3 linked regions of the Homo sapiens genome follow. The protein of the gene in region 1 interacts with the protein of each later gene in a biochemical or structural test. Each region holds a gene or a part of one and is shown in the gene's direction. Other genes may lie near its edges.

Evidence for each region. Proteins that work in one complex are often made in the same cells at the same time.
Region 2: the proteins of SLX9 (region 1) and RRP12 are reported together in a solved structure, tested with the Homo sapiens proteins (one study listed by BioGRID).
Region 3: the proteins of SLX9 (region 1) and LTV1 are reported together in a solved structure, tested with the Homo sapiens proteins (one study listed by BioGRID).

Annotation. Positions count from the first base shown.
Region 1 is NC_000021.9:44,956,424-44,964,936, forward strand, and holds part of SLX9 (ribosome biogenesis protein SLX9 homolog), read left to right. Parts: intron 1-2,274; exon of another isoform or gene 2,275-2,510; intron 2,511-3,676; coding exon 3,677-3,745; intron 3,746-8,513. UniProt on the Homo sapiens protein: May be involved in ribosome biogenesis.
Region 2 is NC_000010.11:97,390,586-97,398,682, reverse strand, and holds part of RRP12 (RRP12-like protein), read left to right. Parts: intron 1-2,381; coding exon 2,382-2,465; intron 2,466-4,922; coding exon 4,923-4,999; intron 5,000-7,838; coding exon 7,839-7,944; intron 7,945-8,097.
Region 3 is NC_000006.12:143,859,996-143,865,067, forward strand, and holds the end of LTV1 (protein LTV1 homolog), read left to right. Parts: intron 1-430; coding exon 431-558; intron 559-2,108; coding exon 2,109-2,248; intron 2,249-2,848; coding exon 2,849-2,901; intron 2,902-3,090; coding exon 3,091-3,291; intron 3,292-3,421; coding exon 3,422-3,532; 3' UTR 3,533-3,817; downstream 3,818-5,072. Other genes in the region: ZC2HC1B (zinc finger C2HC domain-containing protein 1B), read left to right, coding at 4,545-4,572. UniProt on the Homo sapiens protein: Essential for ribosome biogenesis.

The DNA of each region.
Region 1 (8,513 bases):
ATGCATTTCAGCTTGCATTCACCCAGAAGGCGTGGCGAGAAGAACCTCGGCACCACGAGATGCTGCTGGCATGTGCCGCTTCAGCTGGTGACCTGGGTGGTGTTGGCAGCATCTGAGTGGCTCTGTAGGCCGCAGCATCTCCCGGCACCCGAGCCCGAGATGAAGCAGCACGTGCCAGCAGCATCGCGTAGTGTGTTCTGTCCTGAGCCTCATGCAGATCTTTGTGGAGTGAGAATCAAGGCTTGTTGATGGCGTGCACGGAAAAGCCGGTCTCATGCTGATTTTCCTTAGGGTCCATCAGAACACGTGCCCCGTGAACCGTGTCACCCCACGGCCCAACTCTGGTGAGCCTGGTTCTGTGTCTGCTGACCTGGTGAGGGCTGGGGACCAGGTGAGTTGCCTGCGGCACAGGCGTGCTGTGTAGCTGCCATGTGTGGCTTCCTCCACTGAGGCTGGTTTACCGCGTCTGTTCCCGGGGCCCCTTTGTTAGAGCGCAAGAGCCCAGGCAGCACCGTGGCAGCTGGGAAGGCTGTGGTTCTGGCGAGGCGGTTGCCTTGCCCAGTGTACCTGGAATTGCAGCTCCAGAGCACGGGCCCTGGCTCCTGCGCGGCAGCGTCTCACCTTCCCTTTTCTTGTCAGGGTTTTTAGGCAGCCTGTACCTGCGTGCACCCATCCCTCTCTCTGTGCGGGGCCATTCAGCTCATGCTGCAGGTTTTTGCCGGGCCGGCCGGCGTTCCAGGGACCAGAGCCACCCCCAGAGCTCTGTGATGAGTCAGCTCAGGGCAGGTTTCTAGTCACTCCCCAAGGGCAGGGCTGAGGCGGGGTCTTCCAGAGTCAAGGGTTAGAGGGGCTGTTCCTTGAACGGCCCTTGAGTCCTCCTCAGAGTGCCTCCCACTGGGCCAGAGGGGCTGTCCCACACGGTCAGTCCCCACACGCTGCTCGTGAGCCCGGTGCCTCTATGCAGATCGCTCCGTGGCAGCTGCATCCTGGGCTCCTGAAGACTCAGGCAAGGGCACGGCTTCTCCTCATCCTCCTCCTCTTCATCTCCACCATCCATCTGCCCTGTGCCTTGCAGTCCAGCTCAGATACAGGCGCTGTGGCAGCCAGGAGCACCCTGGATACCACCGGGTCCCAGGACCCAGATCGCAGGAGCCACCTCATGCCCTGCGGCCTTGTCTTTCACCCTTTGGGCTTGTTCACTGCCAGTAGCAACAGGTGGCCCCAGAGGGTTCCACCGAGTGTGAGGGGGAGTGGATGGCACCTGCAGCATGTTCCCCCACAGGGAGGCCTGGGCTCTGTCTTGGGGGGGTCCTGTCTCGGTTTTGTGGGGAATGAGGGTATGAGCACCTCGTCTAGCCTTGCCTCAGCCACTGGCTGGGGTTCTGTGAGGTTCAGTTTAATGGGGACTTGCCCGTCTCCTGACACCTTTGAGCTGTGGACTGAGCGGGCCAGAAGGAGTGGCAGTGTGTGAGCCGCCCGTGCAGCAGGTGGCCTAGGATGTGAAGCAGACAGGGCACAGAGGAAGAAGCCTGTCTGCCTAGAGCGGGAAGCCGAGGTCGCAGCCGCCTCTGCCCTTCTGAGTGTGCACCCTTCTGTAGCCTCAGCTCGGCTGGCCGGCGATTGTATGAAGTCGTTTTTACTGTCAGCTCTGGCTTGGTATTCCTGGTGCCCACTCGGACTTCAGGCCCTGTGTGAGGAGCTCGGGCTCGGCGGATGACCTGCCTCAGGTGTGGCCCCTGCTGCCGTCACTTTGTCACTAATCAGACGTGTTTGGTGACCTTCCCCTCCCCATAGCCACTGGGGCTGTAGTGCTGGTGCTGCTGGGATCTGGGTTTGGGGCGAGGCCCAGGACAGTAGCAGCTCCCGACACCCTTGCTTGAGGCCCAGCATCTGCACTCCCAGCCCGGCCCTCCTCCAAGCTGGCATTTCTGCTGCACCCACGGGACGCTCCTGTGCTTCCGCAGCACCGGCGAGAGCTGTGGTGTGCTGGCCTTGTCGTAGGTAAGTTTAGAAACCGGAGCAGCTCGAGCGGACTTCACACTGTCCCCACCACAGGGTGGGGTGCGCCCACCTGCCCTGTCCATGTGGCCTTGGGCCTGCGGGGGAGAGGGAATCAGGACCCACAGGGCGAGCCCCCTCCGTAGCCCGCGGCACCGACTGGATCTCAGTGAACACCCGTCAGCCCATCCAGAGGCTAGAAGGGGGAGCAGGCGTGAACCTGTGCCGGAGCACTTCAGCAAGGGCGCCTTGGGCCCGGAAAGCGGCGGGAGCTGGGGGTCGTGGGGCCGCCGCCAGCAGTTCCAGGCGGCCTCTGCTCCAGCTGCAGCATTCCAAGCCCTCTCCTCCTGCAGGAGCAGCGTGTTTGGTTCCTGTTGTCCTGGTGCCATGGCAATGGGGCTGGGGAGCTCCCTGGGGCCAGAGCCGGGAAGGATCACTGTGCTGTGTTCCTGACCTGGCCTGCGCCCAGGCCTCGTTTTCTTCATTCCAACACAACACAGGTCACTGTTCGGGTCAGTTTCCACTGGTCTTAGATTCATTTTTCTTTTGAAACAATTTCAAAACTACAGAAAAGCTGCAAAATCAGCCCCTCCCCTTTGTGGTCGGGAGGGAGAGGTTGGGATGCTATGGAGGAAAGTAGGTCAACCCAGGCACACCAGGAAGCTGTGGGAGGGGATTAAATCCTGCGGGAGCCCTGGGCCTTGGAGGTTTCACACCGGCTCCTGAAGTGAAGTCTGAAATGCAGAGCGCAGCGACTGCCTTTCTCCAGGCAGGGCTTGCTTCTGCTTTGTTTTTCATTAGACATGGTGGATTTGTTGGACAAGCCAGGAAGGTCTGCATGAATTAAAAGAGATACTGGGAGATGTGTTCTGGGGAGAATGCAGCCGAGGCTGAACCGTCTCGGGAAATCAGTTAAGGCCGAGGAAATGGGGGTGCCCTTGAGTCCACTCTGTTTCAGAGCAAACTGGAGTCAGAGACGCAGCACCCAGTGCCCTCTCCACCTGTCCCCACCTGCACGGCCCTGCAGGCTCATCCCACCCCTGCCCCTGTCCCCCCAGCAAATGAGCCTCCTTTCCCCGCCCACCGGGCAGGTGGCTGGGCTCCGCGTGGACCAAGCACAGGGGCACCTGTGGAGTTCACTTTTGGAGGCTCCCTGAGAGGGCCGCTTTGTGGGGTCCAGGGATGAAGCCTCTGGTCACCGAGCACATTGTCGGGCCTGGCAGGGGGCAGGGAGCACGTACGTCGCTGGGCCTGACGTGACCACACAGGATCTTGGGGATGTCCCCCTAAGGGCCTCTGTCCTGTTCGTGGCCCCCTTCATGAGCCGTCGGGCATTCCTGCATGGCTTCACTGCAATGACTGCCCTGACAGTCATTCGGGGCATGAGTGGGGAGGAGGCCTCCTTGTTGGGACACCTGCTTTCCGGGGCAGGCTGGGGTGAGTGGCCAGGCCATCACTGCGGGGGGACGCTGCTGAGAGAGCCTCCTGAGGCCGGGCCGAGGCATGCTGCAGGTGCCCCTGGTGCTGTCCAGAGCCGGGAGTCTGAGAGGCTGGCACAGGCCAGACCAGTTGCAGTGACTGTGGCAGCTCTGCAGTCAGGACCCGCCCCAGCCCATTCTCAGGTCATGGGAGTGCCACCTGGACACGTTTTGCTCACTCCCGTGTTCTCTTTCCTCAGGTGCAGAGGCCAAGACCGTTTTGCCCAAGAAGGAGAAAATGAAGCTGAGGCGTGAGCAATGGTTGCAGAGTAAGTCCATGCCTGCGTCTTGAGGCAGCTGCCGGCCCAAGTCCCATCCCGTGGGCCCTCCTATTCCTACAGCCTCACATCTGGCCTTCTACATCAGCCACACTCCCCGAGGAGTGCCCAAGGGGATCACCCAAGACACTTCAGAGGCTGCTGTGGGGGCCGAAGGACAGTGGAGGCACAGAGAGGTTGGCCATGAAGACTTGGCAGCATGGCCAAGCTGGTCTGGCCTGTTGTGGATGGCACTGCCACCCCGTCCGTGTGGGCACCTGCAGAGCTGGGCTGCCTCCCTTTGGAGGACGGCCTTGGGAAGCTGCTGCTCTCGGCTCCTTGTTTGTAAAAATTACCTATTTTTGTTCCCCACCGTGAAATTTTTTATTGTGGAAGTAACCTGTGCTCGTGGAGTTTTTATGGTTCAGAAGTGCCTGCAGTGGTATGTGAAATCCTTCCAGGCCTTGCCCGCGGTGAAAACAGTGTCTGCGCATAGCGGCGTGGGTGTGGGCAGGGCCCCTGGTGTCCCCAGACCCTTTCAGGCCTGTGGCTCCCTCTTTTCTGAGGTCAGCCTTGCCACGTGCTCCCAGCTGCACGTCTCCGCAGGCTGAAAGCCACACTTCCCACTCAGGTTGTTTTGGAGTATCTCCTTATTTTTCGTGATGCTGGATATTTGCCAGTGTTTTTCTAAGATTGTTTCTCGTCAAAATTATTTTGTATTTTTCGGTTATCTTTTTAGTGTGATTCTGCTGACTTTGTGAAATTAATTTGGAATATTTTCTTTTTTATGTTATCTGCTTTATTTTTTCCTTGGAGGTTTTAAAGAAAATGTATGTTTTTCAGAGGTAGGACCTAGAAAACTTTGTCAGTTTCTTTTGTGATTATTAGTTTTATGGTTTCTATCCCTTTTTGGATATTTCTTAGGGAAATGATTCATTCCTCCATTTTCTTTTTCACAGTTCCTAGCATAGCTGTGAAAGTGGATTTGGACGGGCTACTGGACTGTGGCCATTTGGACCCTGATTTTCTAGGCTGTAATTCTTTGATGATGTGTAAATTTTATTCCATGGCACTTGGTCCTTTTTTTTTGTTTTTTCACAACTTGAGTCAATTTTGGCCACTCATAAAATGATCGAATTTGTCTGAGGATGGTGTCTCATGCCTGTAATCCCAGCACTTTGGAAGGTTGAGATGGAAGGATCACCTACGCCCAGGAGTTTCAGACTAGCCTGGGCAATATAGCGAGACCTTGTCTCTACAAAAAATGTAAAAATTAGTCAGATTAGGTGGTGTATGCCTCTGAGCCTCTAGTCCTAGCGACTTAGGAGGCTGAGGTAGGAAGATCGCTTCAACCCAGGAGTTTGAGGCTGCAGTGAACCGTAATTGCACTAGTGCACTCCAGCCTGGGTGACAGAGTGGGTCCTTGTCTCTAAATAATGTTAATGATCAAATTTAGTCAGATCTCAATCTTCATATGTTAGTTGCCTTCTTATTAAATATTCTGTTTTCTTTATCGTTCTTTATTTGTATCTCCACCTTCATTTCTGATTAAATTAAGAAGTTTTGTCTCTTCCATTTAATAATTAATGTATTTAATAACCAATTCTACTCTTTTGTCTTCAAAATTATTTGTTTTTATTTTGATCACTCCCGTTTTAGCTTTCTTTGGGTTTCAGTTACTCTGCTTATCTGTTTGTATATGTTTTGTTCAGGAGTGAAAGGCTGTAAGTTATCTCTAAATACAGCTTTAGCTACATTTCCCAAGTTACTTTTACTTTGTATTTTATTATGAAAAATTTTATTTAGGAAAGTGGGAAGAATTTTATAGGGAATACCCTGTACCCACCACACAGATTTTACAATCTTTATTACATAACCGTTCATCTAGCAGTTTCTGTCCATCTACCAACATGGGTTTTTAAAAATGCGTTTCAAAGTAAATGGCAGACATCAGTACACTCCACCCCAAATAATTCTGCTAGAGTTCATGGTTCTTTTTTTTTCTTTTTCTTTTGAAGATTGTATTTACATAAAATGAAATGCAAATCTAAAGTGTGCCATTCAATGATTGCTGACAAATGTTGTAGACACCTGTGCAGCTGAAATCCTGTTCAGGTTATGGACCATCACCACCATTCCCCGACAGTCACGCACCCCCCCAGTCAATTACCTCTCCCACTGGCCCCAGAGGTAACAACTGCTGTGTCACCCTTTGTCGTCCACAGTTGAGCTTTTCTTGCCTTAGACTCTGTATAAATGGAATCATGTAGGATGCACTCTTTCTGCATCTGGCTGCTTTTGCTCAGCGTAATGGTTTTGAAACCCATCCAGGCTGCATGTAGCAGCAGTCCATGCCTTTTGATTGCTGAGAAGTATTTCATTGTATGAATACACCATTTGTTACTCACTTTCCTGCTGATGGGCACCTGGGCTTTTTTCCATTTTTAGCTACTGTGAATAAGGCTGCTCTGAACATTCTTTACAAGTCTTTTTGTGGACATGTTTTCGTTTCTCTTGGGTAAGTGCTGAGGAATGGAATGCTGGGTCATAGGGTAGGTGTATGTTTAGTTTTATAAGCAGCTGCCAGACGCTTTTCTAGAGTGGTTGTACACTCACACTCCCACCAGAGCCTGTGAGAGTTCTCCTGGCCCTCAGCTTTGCCAACACATGGCCTGCCGTCTCCTCAGCCTCGGCCGTCTGGTAATCATGAAATGGTATCTCACGGTGGTACTCATTTCCGTTGCCACCAAAAGAGCATTTACATGTGCTTACTGTCCATTTGTGTTTCAGCGTCAGTGAAATTCATTTTTCATGAGGCTTTTTGTCTTTTTATTATTGAGCTCTAAGAGTTCTTTGTCCTAGAGTCCAGTCTTTGGTTGGATATGTGTTTTACAGATGTTTTTCCCAGACTGTGACTTGCCTGTTCATTTTCTTTCTTTTTTTTTTTTTTTGAGATAGAGTCTTGCTCTGTCGCCAGGCTGGAGTGCAGTGGTGCGATCTTGGCTCACTGCAAGCAACACCTCCTGGGTTCAAGCGATTCTTCTGCCTCAGCCTTCTGAGTAGCCGGGACTACAGGCACCCGCCACCGTGCCCGGCTAATTTTTTTGTATTTTTAGTAGAGATGGGGTTTCACCGTGTTAGCAGGATGGTCTCGATCTCTTGACCTCGTGATCCGCCCGCCTTGGCCTCCCAAAGTGCTCGGATTACAGGCGTGAGAACTTTTTTTTTTTTTTTAAATAAACGAGAGTTTAATTTTGAGAAGTTTAATTTATATTAGTTATTGTGTGTGTGTATATGTATGTGTGTGTGTCCTATTTAAGAAAACTTTGCCTAATCCCAAGTCATGAAGATATTATTCCTGTTTTCTTCTAAAAACTTTATAGTTTGAGCTTTCATATTGGTTTTTTTTTTCTATCTTGAATTGTTTGTCTATGTGGTGTTAGTGGTTAAGTTCCTTTTTTCCCCCTAATATGGATATTCAGCTGTTCCAGCACCATTTGTTATAAGTACTTTTCTTTCCTTATTGGATTGTTTTGTTGCCTTTGTGAAAAATCAGAAAGTCTCATAAGTGTGGATCTGTTTCTAGGCTGTCTTCTGTTCCATTGATCTATTTGTTGTACCTTAGCAAAAACCAGACTGTCTTGATTACCATAGCTTTAGGATTAATCTGGAAGTCAGATAACATAAGTCCTTTTTGTTGGTTCGTCTGTCTTGAGGTTGTTTTGGATATTCTAAGTCCTTGGCATTTCCATATAAATTATCATTAGCTTGTCTATTTCTTTAAAAACAACAACAAAAACCTAGTGGGGTTATGATTGGGATTTCATTGAATCTATAGATCAGTTCAGAATTACCATCTTAGCAAAGCAGATCTTCAAATTCATGAACATAGTATATCTCACCATTTAAATTTCATCATCAATGTTATTCAGTTTTAGTGTAGAGATCTTACATCTTATAATAAGCTTATTGCTAAGTATTTTATAGTTTTTTATGCTGTCATAAATGCAGTTTTTTCTCAGCTCTCTGCTAGTATGTTAAAATACAATTGGTTTTTTAAAATACTAATCTTGTATCCTATGAATTTACTAATATCATGCATTAGGTCTGGTAGTCATTTTGTAGATTCCTTAGGATCTTTAGAAATGCATGTTTTCTGTATGTGTGGATTTTTTCCCTCAATTTGCTTTTTTTCCCCAATATGTGTTGAAATTTCCCCTGTGGATCTGCACGCGCCACCCCACCTTGCCTTTATGAGGACAAGCTTGCAAAGTTTGTCCTTGCTGTTCCTCCCGTTGCAGGGCCCTCCCACTCCTGGAGGCCTCCCCCGGTCACTCTCCATCCCTTGCTTTGCTTTGTTTTGTCCACATACCTCCCCAGTGCCCAGGTAGCGCCTCTATGCTCCACCACACAGCCTGTGCCCCAGCCGTGCCGTGGACAGTGGCTCCCCATGCCCTGTGGGCGGGAGGGTGGGTAGTTGGAACCACACACATGTCCCACTTGACTTTCCCAACCCTCAGTTGTCCTCCAAGGCGGCTGGGCCAGTTCACACCCACCCATCAGCTCCCTCCGTCCTCGAACACTCGATATTATGAAACATTTAAAAATTTGCCAGTCTATGAGGTGCAACATTTCCTTGATTTCTAATCCAGTCGAGTGGCTCCTGCTGTATTTTTTGGCCTTTGATTCCTCTTTGTTTTTAGTATTTAATTCATACATACTGATTTTTAGGAACAGTGTGAGAGGGACTCTGACTCTTTCCCCAGGAGGACCCCAGTTT
Region 2 (8,097 bases), on another chromosome or scaffold:
ATTATGAGTAGTTGAAATTTAAAAACTAAATTTTCAGGCTGGACATAGTGGCTTACACCTGTAATCCTAGCACTTTGGGAGGCCGAGGTGGGCAGATCATTTGAGGTCAAGAGTTTGAGACCAGCCTGGCCAACATGGTGAAAACCCATCTCTACTAAAAAATTAGCCTGGCATGGTGGCATGCGCCTGTAATCCCAGCTACTTGGGAAGCTGAGGCACGAGAATCACTTGAACCCTGGAGGCAGAGGTTGCAGCGACCCAAGATCGCACCACTGCGCTTCAGCCTGGGTGACAGAACGAGACTCTGTCTCAAAAAAAAAAAAAAAAAAGGCCGGGCGCGGTGGCTCACGCCTGTAATCCCAGCACTTTGGGAGGCCGAGGCGGGTGGATCATGAGGTCAGGAGATCGAGACCATCCTGGCTAACAAGGTGAAACCCCGTCTCTACTAAAAATACAAAAAATTAGCCGGGCGCGGTGGCGGGCGCCTGTAGTCCCAGCTACTCGGGAGGCTGAGGCAGGAGAATGGCGTGAACCCGGGAAGCGGAGCTTGCAGTGAGCCGAGATTGCGCCACTGCAGTCCGCAGTCCGGCCTGGGCAACAGAGCGAGACTCCATCTCAAAAAAAAAAAAAAAAAAAAAAAAAATACGTATATATATATACATATATATATATATATGTATATATATATACGTATTTTTTTTTACCCAATTTTGTTATTTAGGTTTACCAAAATGTGATTAGTTTCTTTTCTTTTCTTTTCTTTTTTTTCAGACAGAGTCTCACTTTGTCACCCAGGTTAGAGTGCAGTGGCTGATCAGCCTTCCAATTCCCAAGTAGCTGGGACTACAGGGGAGTGCTACCATACCAAGCTAATTTTTGTATTTTTTGTAGAGATGGGGTTTGCCATATTGCCCAGATTGGTCTTGAACTCCTGGGCTCAAGGGATCTGCCCACCTGAGCCTCCCAAAGTGTTGGGATTACTGGTGTGAGCCATTGTGCCCTGCTTGATTAGTTTATTTTTTATCCACTGTTCTGCAACTTTTTCCCTACTGAACGATATTTATAAGTTAATATATAGTTGTTCTCATTCTTTTGAATAATGCACTATTTAAATTTTTCATTATTATATAATGATACAGTCAGGTCTCTATATTTGCGGGTTCTGCACCTGCAGATTCAACCAAGCATGGATTGAAAAATCTTTTTAAAATAATAATAATATACCAGGCGAGGTGGCTCACGCCTGTAATCCTAGCACTTTGGGAGGCCGAGGCGGGCAGATCACTTGAGGTCAGAAGTTCAAAACCAACCTGGCCAGCATGGTGAAACTCCATCCCTACTAAAAGTACAAAAAATTAGCCTAGCGTAGTGGCACATGCCTGTAATCCCAGCTACTCAGGAGGCTGAGGCAGGAGAATCGCTTGAACCCGGGAGGTGGAAGCTGCGGTTAGCAGAGAGTGCGCCACTGCATTCCACCCTGGGTGACAGAGTGAGACTCTGTCTCAAAAACAACAACAACAACAACAACAACAAAAATACAGTATAACAACTATTTATATAGCATTTACATTGTGTTAGGTGTTACCAGTAATCTAGAGATGATTTAAAGTATATGGGAGGCCAGGCATGGTGGCTTATGCCTGTAATCTCAGCACTTTGGGAGGCTAAGGAGGGCAGATCACTTGAGGCCAGGAGTTCAAAACCAGCTTGGTCAACATGGTAAAACCCCATCTCTACTAAAAATACAGAAATTAGCTGGGCATGGTGGTGCACACCTGTAATCCCAGCTACTTGGGAGGCTGAGGCAGGAGAATTGCTTGAACCCAGAGGCAGAGGTTGCAGTGAGCTGAGATCATGCCACTGCACTCTTGCCTAGCTAACAGTGAGACTCTATCTCAAAAAAAATAAATAAAGTATATGGGAAGATGTATATAGGTTATACACAAATACTACACCATTTTTTATAAGGGACCTGAGCATCCTCGGATTTTGGTATCTTTAGGGGTCCTGGAACCAATCCCCCCCTCGATAACTGCAGTACATTAGAGACAACTACAGTACATTATTAATCTCCTGTTGATGGCTTCTTGACCATTCCAATTTGTTGCTGCCATGAACATCCTTGTACATAAATATTTGCACACTCATCTCATGCAGGTATTTCTAGAAGGTTAGTACCTCATGGTGGAATTTTAGCAAGCATTTTCTGAGTCTTGTTATTTGCTGGGCCCCCTGGTATGGACCTAGGCCCTGAATGTTGCCTGTCTTGTCTGTCTCTGGGCTTTAACCAGAGATTAATCTGTGAAGGAGCAAGGAAAGGAGGTTCCCCTGGGGTGGGGTTAGGTCTAAAATAGTCACAGTGCTTTCTCCCTCCTGTGCAGATCTGTGCTGTTCTGGCTGCTGTCACTGAGGTGATTCGCTCCCAGGGAGGGAAGGAGACGGAGACTGAGTACTTCGCTGCTCTGGTGAGTGGGTGCCACTGGAGGGTGGGTGTTCAGAGCAGCAGGTTATGCAAGATTTAGCGAGAAGATGAGTGCCCCTGGCATGTGGGGGTAGAGAAGGACAACCTTGACCAGGTGAAAGTGCTTCAGTTATTCTCAGGTGGCTTAGGAAGGCTGGTGGTATTTGCTACCTTTTAATTTTCTCTTTTCTTTTCTTTCTTTCTTTGTTTCTTTTTTTTAAAGAGACAGGGTCTCACTATGTTGTCCAGGCTGGTTTCAAATTCCTGGGCTCAAACCGTCTTGTCATCTTGCGGTGGCCTCCCAAATTGTTGGGATTACAGGCATGAGCCACTGCAACTGGCTACTTATTACTTTTTTTTTTTTTTTTTTTGAGGCGGAGTCTCACACTGTCGCCCAGGCTGGAGTGCAATGGCATGTTCTCAACTTATTGCAACCTCTGCCTCCTGGGTTCATGTGATTCTCCTGCCTCAGCCTCCCGAGTAGCTGGGATTACAGGTGCACACCACCATACCCGGCTTATTTTTTGTATTTTTTAGTAGAGAAGAGGTTTTACTATGTTGGCCAGACTTGTCTCGAACTCCTGACCTCGTGATCTGCCTGCCTCAGCCTCCCAAAGTGCTGGGATTATAGGCCTGAGCCACCAGGCCTGGTCTACTTTTTTTTTTTTTTGAAACAGAGTCTCACTCCGTTGCCCAAGTTGGACTGCAGTGGCACGATCCCAGTTCACTGCAACCTCTGTCTCATGGTATCAAGCAATTCTCATGCCTCAGCCTCCTGAGTACCTGGGATTACAGGCGTGCGCCACCACACCTGGCTGATTTTTGTATTTTTAGTAGAGACAGGGTTTCACCATGTTGGCCCGGCTGGTCTCGAACTCGCAACCTCAGGTGATCCCCCCTACCTCAGCCTCCCAAAGTGCTGGAATTACAGGTGTGAGCCACCATGGCTGGCCTACTTATTACATTAAATAAATAAATATATTTGTGTATGTATGTATGTGTGTGTGTGTGTGTATATGTGTATATATATACTTTTTATTTTGTTTTTGGGTTTTTTTGTTGTTGTTTGTTTTGTTTTGGAGACAGGGTCTCACTTTGTTGCCCAGGCTGGAGTGCAGTGGTGTGATCATGGCTCACTGCAACCTCCACCTCCTGTGTTCAAGTGATGATCGTGCCTTAGCCTCCTGAGTAGTTGGAATTACAGGCGCCTGCCACCATGCCCAGCTAATTTTTGTATTTTTAGTAGAGACAGAGTTTCGTCATGTCGCCCAAGCTTGTCTTGAGCTCCTGAGCTGAATCAGTTCTCCCACTTTGGCCTCCCAAAGTGCTGGGATTACAGGCATGAGCCACCATGCCCAGCCTGGTTATTACATTTTTAAAGAATTGTTAAAACACACACAAAAAGAACATACAACAGAGACCAAGTGTGCATGCAAAGCCGAAAATATTTACTATCTGGTCCTTCGTAGAAAAAGTTTGCCAACCTCTGCTCTAGAATAATGAAATAAATTAGATGGCAGTATATGGTGTTTGGCTGGGTGTGGTGGCTCACGCCTTTAATCCTAGGACTTTGGGAGGCCAAGATCGGAGGAGTGCTTGAGGCTAGGAGTTCGACACCAGCCTGTGCAATATAGTGGGACCCTGTCTCTACAAAAAATAAAATAATTAGCCAAGCTTTGTGGCGCATGCCTGTAGTTCTAGCTGCTTGGGAAGTTGATGTGGGAGGATCTCTTGAGCTTTGAAGTTCAAGGTTACAGTGAGCTATGATTATACCACTGCACTCCAACCTGGGAGACCCTGTCTCTCAAAAAAACTATCTATCTATCTCTGTATATATATGCACATAAACATATATATAGTTTATTTATTTATTTTTTTTGAGACGGAGTCTCACTCTGTCACCCAGACTGGAGTGCAGTGGCACGATCTCAGCTCATTGCAAGCTCTGCCTCCTGGGTTCACGCCATTCTCCTGCCTCAGCCTCCCGAGTAGCTGGGACTACAGGCGCCCGCCACCATGCCTGGCTAATTTTTTGTATTTTTTAGTAGAGACGGTGTTTCACCGTGTTAGCCAGGATGGTCTCGGTCTCCTGACCTCGTGATCTGCCCTCCTCGGCCTCCCAAAGTGCTGGGATTACAGGCGTGAGCCACCACGCCCAGCCACATATATATAGTTTTAATTATGTGTCAGGCAGTATTTTATATATATTAATTCAATTAAACCTCACAACAACGTATAAGGTATGTAGCATTAGTATCCCTACTTTACAAATGAAGAAACTGAGTCACAGATAGGTTAAATTACTAGCCCAAAACCACACAATGCCAGAGTCAGGATCTGAACCTCTGATACCGTGGTTCTCAGTCACAACTGTTCTGCTGGGCACATGTTCCCCCACTCTCTTTCCTGTTTGCTCAGTGTAAGTTTTTATCCATTCAAACCCCCTCAATCTGGCCCTCAGATGACAACAATGGAAGCAGTGGAGTCCCCGGAGTCCCTGGCCGCCGTTGCTTACCTGCTGAACCTTGTCCTGAAGCGGTGAGTTCTGCCTCCTGTTTGAACCCCAAGGCTTTTTGTGGAGGGGAGAAGGGAATGTGGACAGGAGAAACAGGATCAGGGAATTGTTATTTAAAAAGATACTTGCTCTTCATGAACATTGTCTAGAGGCATGCAGAATGGGCCAGCATGTGACATACCGTCGTAGGCCTCTAGTGAGAAACTCTAACTAAACTAGGCTGTCCTGAACCCCTGGTAATAGAATCATTTACCTTTATGCCAAGAAGGTTGGGAAAGCACCAAAATCTTCACGTGGTGTGTGTCCAGGCAGACATTCAGGAGCTCGTGCTGTGAGATCTAAAGTTGTTATTTGATAGTCCAAAACAAAAGGCATGTCTATAGGGCCTGCAGTGCTTCCCTGGTTCCATGTGTGCTCAGTGTGTTCATGACAGAATCAAGTGTGCTTTCCTTATTGAGGAGCAGAAAATCATTGTGAAAGTGTTGAAGGCAAAAGCAGAGTCAGAAAGCTCTATTGAAAATGAAACTTTTTTGGCCTGGTGCGGTGGTTCACACCTATAATCCCAGCACTTTGGGTGGCCGAGGCAGGCAGATCAAGAGGTCAGGAGATCGAGACCATCCTGGCCAACATGGTGAAACCCCGCCTCTACTAAAAATATAAAAATTAGCTGGGTAGGCTACATGCTGTGGCTCACGCCTGTAATCCCAGCACTTTGGGAGGCTGAGGTGGGCAGATCGCCTGTAATCCCAGCACTTTGGGAGGCTGAGGTGGGCAGATCACCTGAGGTCAGGAGTTCGAGACCAAACTGGCCAACATGGTGAAACCCCGTCCCTACTAAAAACACAAAAATTAGCTGGGCATGGTGGCAGGTGCCTGTAATTCAGCTACTCGGGAGGCTGAGGCAGGAGAATTGCTTGAACCCAGTAGGCAGAGGTAGCAGTGAGCTGAGATCATGCCATTGCACTTACAGCCCTGTCAACAGTGCAAGACTCCGTCTCAAAAAAAAAAAAATAGAAAGAAAATGAAATTTGTTTTGAGTAATAAAAATTAAAAGTCATGGCTGGACGCAGTGGCTCATACCTGTAATCCCAGCACTTTTGGAGGCTGAGGCAGGAGGATTGCTTGCGGCCAGGAGTTGGAGACCAGCCTGGCCAACATGGTGAAACCCGATCTCTACTAAAAATACAAAATTAGCCAGGTGTAGTGGTACATGCCTGTAATCCCAGCTACTTGGGAGGCTGAGGCAGGAGAATCACTTGAACACAGAATGTGGAGGTTGCATTGAGCCAAGATCAAGCCACTGCAGTCCAGCCTGGGCAACAGAGTGAGACTCCATCTCAATAAATAAATAAGTAATAAAGTAAAAAATAAAAAACCTTGATTCTTTAAGATGAAAAAGTTCTTGAGATTGGTTGCACAACAATGTGAGTATACTTGGCTGGGTGTGGTGACACATACCTATAATCCCAGCACTTTGGGAGGCTGAGGCAGGTGGACTGTTGAGCCCAGGAGTTCGAAACCAGCCTGGGCAACATGGCAAAACCTTGTCTCTACAAAAAAATACAAAAATGAGCTAGGCGTGGTGGCATGCACCTGTAGTCCCAACTACTTGGGAGGTAGAGGTTGCAGTGAGCCTAATTGTGCCACTACACTCCAGCTTGGGTGACGAGTGAGACCCTGTCTCCAAAAAAAGAAAAAAAAAAAACCCACAACATGAATATACTTAACAGTACTGAATGATATACCGAAAAATATCGTTGAAATGGTGTGTTGTTTTTTTCCTTTTTGAGACAGAGTCTCGCTCTGTTGCCCAGGCTGGAGTGCAGTGGCGCCACCTCCTCCCACTGCAACTCCACCTCCTGGGTTCACACCGTTCTCGTGCCTCAGCCTGTCAAGTAGCTGGGACTACAGGCGCCCGCCACCACGTCTGGCTAATTGTTTGTATTTTTAGTAGAGACCGGGTTTCACTGTGTTAGCCAGGATGGTCTCGATCTCCTGACCTCATGATCCACCCGCCTCGGCCTCCCAAACTGCTGGGATTACAGGCGTGAGCCACTGCGTCCGGCCGAAATGATGTTTTATCTTATGTGTATTTTACCACAATTAGAAATTTATTTATTTATTTATTTATTTTTGAGACAGAGTTTCGCTCTTGTTGCCCAGGCTAGAGTGCAATGGTGCAATCTCAGCTCACCACACCCTCCACCTCCCGGGTTCAAGTGATTCTCCTGCCTTGGCCTCCCAAGTAGCTGGGATTACAGGCGGGCGCCATCACGCCCAGCTAATTTTGTATTTTTAGTAGATACAGGGTTTCTCCATGTTTGTCAGGCTGGTCTCAAACTCCCGACCTCAGGTTATCTGCCCACCTTGGCCTCCCATAGTGCTGGGATTACAGGCGTGAGCCACCATGCCTGGCCAGAAATTTTAAAATACAATTTAAAAGATACTTGTATATCAGGTGGCATTCTACAACATAAGGTCCTGGGTGACTGGGTCATTATACCAGGGAGTGTGAGTGTTGGCCCCCAGAAGGGGCATTCCTGGAGCAGTGAGTGGCAGAAGGGAGGGAAGGAGTAGTTGGCCCCAGGCTTTCTGGAGATGTGAACTGCCAGGGGAGGTGGAGAGAGGATTGGTGTCCTGAGTTTAGGAGTGGGTAGTGGGAAGGTGAGAGAGGCAGGGATCCCGGGTGGAAAGCACACTGAGCTGGCTGATAAGGTGGGTGCCTATTCTGACTTTGTTGCTCACTTTCTGAGTGACTGTGCCACCAGCGCCCCTTGCCCTGTCCTCCTTAGTACCACGAGGGGCTGCACCAGCTGCTCTTCAGGGACCCTCTGGGGTGACCATCTCTGTTCTTTCCCACAGTGTTCCCAGCCCTGTGCTTATTAAGAAGTTCTCTGATACCTCCAAAGCCTTCATGGATATCATGTCAGCTCAGGCCAGCAGCGGCTCCACCTCTGTCCTCCGATGGGTTAGTGTCTGGGGTTTAGTTTCTCATCTGGCGACTCCCAGAGCCTGTCTGATTTGGTGATGCTTAGATGTTCCCTGAGAGGGGTTTAGGCACCCTGGGGACCTCAGACAGATGCGATTTTCTGGAGTCAGTGAGAACCTGGGCTCTTTTCCC
Region 3 (5,072 bases), on another chromosome or scaffold:
GAGAGGCTGAGGTGGGAAGATTGCTTGAGCCTGAGAGTTTGAGGCTGCAGTGAACTATGATCACGCCACTGTACTCCAGGCTGGGAGACAGTGAGATACTTAAAAAAAAGAAAAAGTATCTTCAAAAATGTTCTGACGTAATCTGTGCTGCCTAGCATTTTGTTCTCCAAGCTGAGTGGAATAATGCCTTTCATTTACATGTTAAATGGAAGCCTATTTTTAGGCTAAATGTAAGTCTTAAAGTACTGAGCAGAAATATCTTCCACATCCTATTGTTGCATTAAATCCCTACTGATATTTTAATGGTAATTGTGATAGTACCTGAATAACTATTGTGTAAGAATAAAGTTAATGTAAAAAAATTTTTAAGTGTGTAGTCTTACTGAGTACATTTGCTTTTCATGGTATCTTTTCTCTGTTTATATTCAAGTTTTATGAGCAATATGATGATGATGAAATTGGAGCTCTGGATAATGCAGAATTGGAAGGTTCTATTCAAGTGGACAGCAATCGCTTACAGGAAGTTTTGAATGACTACTATAAAGAGAAGGCAGAGAAGTATAGTGACTTTTCCTTCCTTGTTTAGCTGTTCTTTTTTTTAAAAAAGAAAAAATTCCAAAGAAAGGTCTATAGTATAACTGAATTGAGGAAAAAATTAACCTAGTCAAAATACATATTGAGAAAATGAAAAAGGAAAAAAGAAAAGGGGAAAAAAAAAGATAGGGCGGAAAAAAGAAAGTGGTACATTTTCCATAAACTTGGGTCATGTATAGCTCATTGTTTTGCCTACATTTTGGTGTTAAATGTTCTGAAGTAGAACGTAATGGGAATATACGAGGAGCCACTTTCTCCGTATCTTTGACTGGAGAAGAGTCATGGTAGAATGTGTATTCGTTTATTAAATTTTTTTTTTTTTTTGAGACGGAGTCTTGCTCTGTTGCCCAGGCTGGAATGCAGTGGTGCGATCTCAGCTCACCTGCAACCTCCGCCTCCCAGGTTCAGGTGATTCTCCTGCCTCAGCCTCCTGAGCAGATGTGATTACAGGTGCACACCACCATGCCCAGCTAATTTTTGTATTTTTAGTAGAGATGGGGTTCCACCATGTTGGCCAGGCTGGTCTCAAACTCTTGACCTCATGTAATATGCCTGCCTCGGTCTCCCAAAGTGCTGGGATTATAGGTCTGAGCCACTGTGCCTGGCCAATTTTTAATTTTTTTTTAACTTTTATTTATTTTGCTTAAAAGTTTTGTTTTGATAGAAGCATGAATATTATTAGGGTGTGAAATATAAGGACAGGCTGGGCGTGGTGGTGTACACCTGTAATCCCAGCTGTTTGGGAGGCTGAGACAGGATCACTTGAACCTGGAAGGCAGAGGTTGCAGTGAGCTGAGATAGCACCACTGCTTCCAGCCTGGGTGACAGGGCGAGACTCTGTCTCAAAAAAAAAAAAAGAAATAAAGGGACACATTCCCCTTGGAAAATAAGATCGTGTTTCTAGTCTTTTGGGCTGAAGAATTATTCCAAGCATACGCTTTTTTCATCTTTCTGAAATGCCAGGTGTTCTGAGAAGTAGGTATTTACATCTCGTGGAAAGACAAGAATTTGTCTCTCCAGCTGGATTAGCGGAACTGACCAGCCAGTTATTTTGGCAAATCAGCATCCACATCAAGGTGACTCTTCTCTGAGAGAAACTGATGAAGTGTTCAAATCAGCTAGAAAGGTCTGATGTTCCATGATCACTATAATATATAGATCCCATAGCAGAAAAAGAAGCTATATAGTTGAGTGAAATATTCGAATACTTTGCAGAGACAGATGAGTTATGCTTTTTTAGGCTTTAAAAACCTGTTTTCTTAGGAAGCTGCCTTGGAAAGACACAGCTAGATGTTACCTTCCTATCAGCCGAGTGAATGTCCAAAACTCACTGGAGGGAAGAGGCAGGGCTGGGTAGAACAGAGTTTGACAGAAAATAACGGATGGGTCACTGGAATATGTGCATTTAAAACATTGGTTTTTCCACAGCTAAAAATTGCAGTTTTAGTGACATAGTATAATAATAGGTCATTTTTCCCCCTCTTGGTCTTCACTTTTAAAAACTCGTCTAAAAGTTGTGTAAAATTGAATACCCTTGAACCCTTGGAGGATCAAGACCTGCCAATGAATGAGCTTGATGAGTCTGAGGAGGAAGAAATGATTACTGTAGTCCTTGAAGAAGCCAAAGAGAAGTGGGATTGTGAATCTATTTGTAGTAAGTATATTCACTTTATGATAGTAATTTTAAAGTATTAAAGTATATCAACTTTAGGCTGGGTGCGGTGCCTCACGCCTGTAGTAATCCCAGCACTTTGGGAGGCCGAGGCGGGTGGGTCACCTGATGTCAGGAGTTCAAGACCAGCCTGGCCAACATGGTGAAACCCCGTGTCTACTAAAAAATACAAAAATTAGCCAGGTATGGTGGCAGGCAACTGTAATCCCAGCTGCTCGAGAGGCTGAGGCAGGAGAATAGCTTGAACCTGGGAGGCAGAGGTTGCAATGAGCCGAGATCATGCCATTGCACTCCAACCTGGGCAACAAGAGCAAAACTCTGTCTAAAAAAAAACATATATCAACTTTGAAAAAATACATATATTTTAATAAGAGTTAGGCTTTTAGGAAATTTGTGAAAAATTATTTGGAAAGAGTAATATTCCAATACTGAGTTGTAAGCAATTTATAAAACATTGATCAGAGACTCCAGTGTTATTTTGCACTATGAAAACACAAGGTCAGAAATATAGTAGGAATTCAGTAATGCTTTGTGGAACTGAAAACATGCTTACTGATACATGACTTTTATTTGTTTGTTTAGGTACATACTCAAATTTATATAACCATCCACAGCTTATCAAGTATCAACCAAAGGTAAGTCCTAGTGTGCTGAGCTATTTGAAGGATGCAGTGCATAAAAAATAGAGTGCACATTTTCGCACAATAACTTTTTATCTTTATGGCTAGAGTGATATTAGAAAAAGCATCAACAGTATGTCATTAATGAGCTATTTTTTAATAGGAATGAGAAGTAACTCTAGTACCATTTTATCTGTATTTCAGCCCAAACAAATTCGAATATCTTCTAAAACAGGAATACCTCTCAATGTCTTACCAAAGAAAGGACTCACAGCAAAGCAAACTGAAAGAATACAGATGATTAATGGCAGTGATCTTCCTAAAGTATCAACTCAGCCACGTTCTAAAAATGAAAGCAAAGAAGATAAAAGAGCAAGAAAGCAAGCTATAAAAGAAGAGCGCAAGGTAAAATATATTTTTCAAATGTGAGATTTACAAAGAGCTGGTGGAGGGGAAATTAGGGGAATTTTGTAAAAGCAGTCTGTATCAGTTTAAAGATGTGAATAATACAAGTATATTCTTGTACTTATAACAGGAACGAAGAGTGGAGAAGAAAGCTAACAAATTAGCATTTAAACTGGAGAAAAGAAGGCAAGAAAAAGAGCTGCTGAACTTGAAGAAGAATGTTGAGGGTCTAAAGCTATAGACAGTGGAGCATACAGGGCAAGGCACTTTATTAGGGGCTCCTCATCTTTGGTTATTGACTAGAAACTTCAGAAAGACAAAACTGTTTGCCATTTTTACTGGCAGATAAGAGGAAAATACAATATTTGTATTATTTTTATACTAGTAAGTGTCCCCTGCCAACCATCTTGTAAATATTGTAATACTTTAATTTTTAATATTATAAGCTTACATTTGCTCTGAAGTAAATGACTTCATGAATGTGAAATGTTTGATAAATTAAAGGAAAATATCTTCATAACGTGAATGGAATTGGTGTATTCATTTATTTGTATGGTTGTCATAGTTGTTTTTTGCAGATGTTTTCAAATATTTCTTTGAATCCTCTCCACGCCTTTTCAGGAATTACATGGTTTAATTTGCTGTAAATAGAAAAGTGGCCTGGTTAAACTCAATTTTGAAATGCTGACTTTATTCTGTTTAGTGTAAGATGAGTTTTTCTGAGAAGGTTCCACTGTTAGGAAGCTAAGTTTTCCCTTGCTGTATACAAAGGACTGTTTCAAAAGTGTGGCAAAACTGAATATTAAGGTTCTTAAGATTCATATTTCCTGTTATATTACTGGATGACTTGCTTTTGGGATTTAGGAACAGTGAAGGCAGGAAACAGAATAGTCAAGGAAATAAGAAAACTTATTTGGCTTCAGTGAGTCCCTAGTTCAAAATCAGAAATATTTATTTCAGTTTAAACTGGGGAGTTTGTCTTTTCAACATCAGTTAATGCTTGGAACCATTCATACTTGATTAAAATACATCGTTGAAAACTTTCCCTGTTTTTGATGAGTTGATTTTTGTTTTAACTGATTTAAACTTTTTCAAGGTTTAGGCAATGACATCATCACAATTGTTGATTATTTGGTAAACTATGACTTCTTGCAACAGATTAGTGGTCCTGGTTTATGTTCTTGACTAGTATGATGTTATCTGGACTGGGCTGTAAAAATCTGTGAACACTGTTGCTCTGAGTTAGGAACAGAATGGCTGGGGCAGAACCATTTTTGGCAGGTGAGCTGCACTTGATATCTAAATTATTAGAAAATGCCTTCATCTGTAATCATTCATTTATGGCTTTTCCAAAGCTGGTAGGTATTAGCTTGTTCTACCATGTGTGATCCGTTTAAATCTAAGTATTGTAGGATTTTTAAAGAGTTGTCAAAACTGATGGCATTAGGTATTCTACCAACATTGGCTAGAAAAAAATCTTGACTGAAGAGCTTGTCATTGCAGAAGTAGGATACTGGAGAGAATGTATTTAAATGCCAACCTGTGAAGTAAAGGGTCAGATGATGGTTTATGTCAATATTGAGAATGTAAGTACTAAAAGGATTGGCCATTTATTTTGATAGCTGTCTCAACTGAAGATTCTCAAAAACAGCAAGAGTCTTAATAGGCATTGGATGTTTCTTTGTCATGTTACTCAAATTCTGTGTTATGAGGTGCTAACTTCACTGTGTTTAAATCCATATATTATATATTTTGCAATTAAGAGAAAAAGACTAGGCCAT